Regions from separate parts of the Homo sapiens genome. Here region 2 is linked to region 1. The links come from fine-mapping of genetic effects on gene expression. Tissue or cell type: whole blood. Region 1 holds a variant in brackets; the other region holds the start of a gene. All regions are shown on one strand. Distances are from middle to middle.

What was found. PIP is the estimated chance that this variant, and not a neighbour inherited with it, causes the effect.
Region 2: CITED4 starts here. The variant in region 1 is fine-mapped to the expression of CITED4 in whole blood (TOPMed, PIP above 0.99).

The regions. Positions count from the first base shown.
Region 1 is chr1:40,920,339-40,923,020 of GRCh38, forward strand. No RefSeq gene overlaps it. Among named protein-coding and RNA genes, the nearest start is that of CTPS1, 58 kb to the right of the region's middle. The variant C/G (reference allele first, on the strand shown) is at 1,619.
Region 2 is chr1:40,860,932-40,863,613 of GRCh38, forward strand. CITED4 (Cbp/p300 interacting transactivator with Glu/Asp rich carboxy-terminal domain 4) reads right to left here and starts at 1,432. Exons shown (of 1, transcript NM_133467.3): 1 at 123-1,432. The coding sequence starts at 1,196. The coding sequence ends at 642. It overlaps LOC124904157 (a long non-coding RNA gene), which reads left to right and starts at 1,453. Exons shown (of 3, transcript XR_007066025.1): 1 at 1,453-2,179. RefSeq lists silencers at 1,219-1,298, 1,459-1,658 and an enhancer at 1,759-1,818.

The DNA.
Region 1 (2,682 bases):
TATGTGCCGCCATTGCTCTGGGAACTGAAGATGTTCCAGTGAATGAAGTGGAGCCCCCTCCCTCAAGGATCTCACAGTCTCTTTGGAGCAGACAGGCAATAAACATGTACACAAATGACAAATTGTATAGTACCAGAGTATGTTAAGTGCTCTGTACACAAGTCAAAAGAATAGGGCGTGATGAAGAGGATGTGTGTGGGAACCGCGAGGAGGCCATTGAGGTAGAGTGAGCACAGTGACCAGGCCACTGAGGTAGAGTGAGTGCGGTGACCAGAAGGGCTGGGAATAGAGGTCACAGAGGAAAGGCCATGGTGAAGAGTTTGAATTTTCTGAGAGACAGGCATGGTCCAACACTTTGGGAGGCTGAGGTGGGTGGATTGCTTGAGCCCAGGAGTTTGAGGCCAGCCTGGGCAACATGGTGAAACCTGGTCTCTACAGTTTTGTGCGTGTATATGTATACACACACACACACACACATATATACACACATATATACACACATGTATATACATAATGTGTATTTATATGTATAAATTAGCCAGGCGTGGTGGCGCATGCTTGTAGTCCCACCTATTTGGGAAGCTGAGGTGAGAGAATCCCTTGAGCTTGGGAGGTTGAGGCTGCAGTGAGCCAAGATTGTGCCACTGCACTCCAGCCTGGGTGACAGAATGAGACTCTTTCTAAAAAAAAAAAAAAAAAAAAAAACCTTCCATGGGGTGTGACGGAAAGCGACTGTCCTGTCTGTGTGCCATGCCCATTCCTCCCACTGGACCTCTTGTCTGAATGGCCTCCCCAAGCTTCTCCAGCATCCTTGTTATACTTAGATTTCAGGACCCAAGGCCAGTCATGCTATCATTCTGGAGCCTTCTTTGTTTACTCCAGACCACATTCATCTCTTCTTCCAAATTCCTAAGATGGTACCTTGGGTCTTGGGGCTTGGCTAGACTTCAAATTCAAATTCTCAAACATGTACTCTGCCCCCATGTCATGCCTATCACTGTGCTGGTGCAACACGTAGGTAACTCATCCAAGCCTCGCCACCTTCCCATGAGGTTCAAATTATGCCCAGTTTTTACAGATGGGTAAACTGAGGCTTGGAGCAGTTAAGCAACTTATCTGTGGGCTCACATATAAGGAGTGGTGGAGGAAGGATTTGAATGCAGCATCTGATCCCCCAAGTCCAGCTTCGTTCTCACTAGCCCTCAGCCACTTCTGCCTTTACATAATTTGATCATGGTCTTCAGGGGTCCCCAGACCTGCCCCTAATCTCCTTCCGCATCTTCACTTCTGCACGACCCACAGCACCCAGGGATCACCGGAGTAGGCACCCTGCACTTCTCTATGCCCCCTGCCAGTGGGATGTGACACTTGCAGAGTGAATAAGCACCCCTAGGGTGACAGCCAAGGCTGCCCACACCTCTCTCCTCTCCTGCAGTGGGTTCCTACAGGGAGCCAGCAGCCATCCAGTGGAACAAGGGGCCAACACTTCAGAAGAAACTGCCATATGCTGGAGTTGTGTTATTGTCAATATGACTCTTTCTTCCAGGCCTGTGCATGATGGCATGGGAATAGTCATAACAACCTTTACTACAGCAACTCTTCATTGGCACTAGCCCAT[C/G]TTAAGCTTCTCCTTTTTGGGTTAAATTCAGGATGTCAATAATAATAACAACAATAGTTTTTTTGTTGTTGTTGTTTGTTTGTTTGTTTTGAGACAGAACTCACTCTGTCACCCAGGCTGGATTGCTGTGAAGTGATCTCTGCTCACTGCAGCCTCAATCTCCCAGGCTCAAGTGATCCTCCCAACTTAGCCTCCCGAGTAGCTGGCACTACAGGTGTGCACCACCACACCCAGCTAATTTTTGTATTTTTTGCTGAGATGGGGTTTCGCCATGTTGCCCAGGCTGATCTCAAACTCCTGGGCTCAAACCCTCTGCCTGCTTGGGCCTCCCAGAGTGCTGGGATTACTTGCATGTACCGCTGTGCCTGGACAACAATAGCTATTTTATCAAAAATATGCAAAATGAAAGGAAGCTGCTGGGCACTTTATGTACCCTATCTTATTTAATCCTTATAGAAACCCTAGGATGCAGGTATGATTATTATGCCCATTTTACAGATATAGAAACTGAGTCTCAGGCAGGCAAAGCAACTTGCCTGAGGCCACAGAGCTGATAAATGCTGAAACTCAAATCCCAGCTCCACCCTGAGGCTGGTGGACCTCCAAGTCCTTGATCTCAACCTCTGCACCCAGTTCTACAACCAGATAGGTGTTCAGGAGGTCCAACACAGGCAGTGGATAGGTGAGGAAGGCTTAGTGACTGGGGCTCCTCAGAGAGGTGCATAAAACCAGGGAAACTCAAAGCACTGCAGGGACACTGGTCTGAGTTTCAGGAACCTGGGTCCAGATCCTGGCTTTGCCTCCTCCCAGCCGTGTGTCCTTGCTCATGTTGCCTACCCTCTCTGCACCTTTATTTCCTCAGCTGTGAAATGGGTTGATAATAGATTCGCCCTCCAAGCCTGGTGTAAGAAGGAAGTATGATAATGTCTGTGAACATGCTTTGAGGCCCTGAAGCACCACGCTTAGTGCATTATCATCCATTCCCTGGACTTCTAGAATGAGTGAACCGTGGGAGAATCAGGAACAGCATCGGGGGAAGGAGGAGAGGAAAGTGTCGGATCAGG
Region 2 (2,682 bases), 59 kb before region 1:
CTCTCCTGGGCACTGCTGGGGACTGTGGCCCCCATGCCATCCAGTGTCTTCAGCAACCTTGGGACTTTGGAAGCTAAATATAGTCAGGGCTCGGGGTGATAAGGAAATGAAAACGGCAAGACTGTAAAGTGACCCAGTTTTATTTTGGTTTTGGAGGCCAGACAGGGCATTGCTCCACGGGTTCGGGCTGTACAACCTTCCCCTCCTTGAGGTGGGAGGCCCAGCAACCACAGGGCCCAGGCAGCGGGGTGGGAGGCTCAGGAGATGGTGGCTCTGGGGACCCGATCCCGAGGAGAGAGGGGGCAGCAGGCAGAGGCCTGCAATGGCTCAGATTGGGGGAAGAGGGCGGCGAGGGGGAGAGGACACGATCCAAGAACCAGAGTCCGAAAGCTGAAGCTGGTCCGGTCTCTTTCACTTTACGGCCGAGGCTGGGGTCAGAGAAGTGAAGCCAAACTGTCCTCCCGCAGGAGGCAAGGCCTGGAGGGACGCCAGGGTCCCAGTCCGGTGCCGGGCCCTGCGCACACAGCCGCCGCCTCCACCCTCGCGGAGGGCGCGCGCGGGGCCCAGTCGCTGGGTGCAGGGTCCGGCGGGCAGTCGGGCCCTTTCTCCTCTCCGGCACGCCGGGCGGGCGCCGGCCGCCCTCAGCAGCTCACGGAGCCGGCGGGCGGCGCGGACCCCAAGTCCGAGAAGCAGTCGAACTCGCTCTGGCCCAGGAAGAGCTCGGGCAGCTCGCGCACGCGGTGCAGCCCGAGCTCCAGCTCCAGCGACGTCAGCGCCTCCTCGTCGATGAGTTCGGCGTCCATGCCGCCCAGGGCGTGCGCGGGCGGCGGCGGGGCTGCGGCGCTTGGCGCCGGCTGCGGGCCCGGGGGGCCTCCCGGAGCGTTGGGGGGCGCGGCCGCGCGGCCGGGGTACGGCGTCGCCACAGGCTGCAGGTGCGCGATGCCCGCGGCCGGCGGAGGCACGGCCGGAAAGGGCTGGAAGGAGGACGGCGGCCCGAAGGCCCCGTACGCCAGGGCCCCGGGTTGGCGGGGCGGCGGCGGCCCCAGCGGAGCCCCCCGCGGCCTCAGCCCACTGTCCAGGCCCGGGCCCGCGTACGGCGGCAGAGTCCGGAGCGCATGAGGGCCATGGGCGGCCGCGGCGGACGGCGGCCTCTGCACCAGGCGGTAGCCCTCGGCGAGCATCAGGTGGTCGGCCATGGCGGCAGGCCGGCTGCCTGCGGGGACAGCGCGCGGTGGTCAGCGCCGGCTCCCCCGGCCCGGGCCAGCGGCTGCTCTGCGGCGGGAGACCCGGGCACCGTGCGGTCCCTGCAGCTCGGCCGGGCGGAGCAAAACCAAACCCGACTGGTGCCCCGGCCCAGCCCACTACTGCGCACCTTGCGGCCGCAGCCTGGGGTCACAAAGGCCCGCAACCTGTAGTGCTCCGAAACCTCCGCGTCGCGTAGCTGGGCTCGGCGTATTCTTATACCCAGAGGCGGGGCTTCCCCGCCCTCGGACGCTCATTGGCTGGGCGAGACGCTTCTGGGCGGGCCGCGCACGCCTGCATCTAGGTCTTGGCCCCGCCCCTCCCACTGGAACCCCGCCCCTTGGGACTCCGGCCACGCCCCAGGCTCTGAGCACCGCCCTGGGGCGGGGTATTTGGCACTTTCGGAGGGATTCGGTCTGGCCCTCAGGGCTTCGGAATCGGACTTGGCTGGGGTAGAGCTTGAACTGACCAGAAGGTGGGGTGGGAGGGCCAGAGTTTTAGGCCCCCCAAGAGCTGCAGGATGTCAGGCCTACGCAACCTTTTAACTTTCCAGGTAGAGACCGAGGCTCAGTGGCGGAAGAGGCTTCCTGGAAATACACAGCAAAGCCTTGATCAAAGTGAGACTGCACAGCTACACAGGGCGCATGCACCTTAGCGGTGCAGGGTCCCCGCAGGAGGTCAGCTGTCCATTCCCATAACCCCCAGGAGAGCCTGTTGCTCCCCCTCTAGTTCCCACTGCACCTTGTCTGTTGAAGCATGTACTTAGTTGTTATTAATTTATGGGCACGTCTCCTGAAGGACTTGTTCATCTTCTTCTTCTCAGCACTTGGCCCAGAGCCTGGCCCAGAGCAGGCTTTTAGTAAAAGCTGAGTGAATGAACTAATGATGGAATGAATTGCAACTCTCAGCTGAGCCTCAGTTTCTTCATCTGTAAAAGGTAAAGAACAGCAGCACTGACCCTTTGTGAGGGGTAAGTGAGGGCATGTGTGCACAGTGCCTAGCACAGTGCCTGGTATGTGGTAGATGCTCAAAAGTGTCCCTTAGATGAAAGAAAGGCTATTTAAGTTCTTTTTTTTTTTTTTTTTGAGACGGAGTCTCGCTCTTTCGCCCAGGCTGGACTGCAGTGGCGCTGTCTTGGCTCACTGCAAGCTCCGCCTCCCGGGTTCACGCCATTCTCCTGCCTCAGTCTCCCGAGTAGCTGGGACTACAGGCGCCCGCTACCACGCCCGGCTAATTTTTTTTGTATTTTTAGTAGAGACGGGGTTTCACCGTGTTAGCCAGGATGGTCTCGATCTGCTGACCTCGTGATCCGCCCGCCTCGGCCTCCCAAAGTGCTGGAATTACAGGCGTGAGCCACCGCGCCCGGCCAAGGCTATTTAAGTTCTGTCCCAAAGGGCCTTCTCTTGATAACAGCAATAATAACTTGGACTTTTAAAGTGC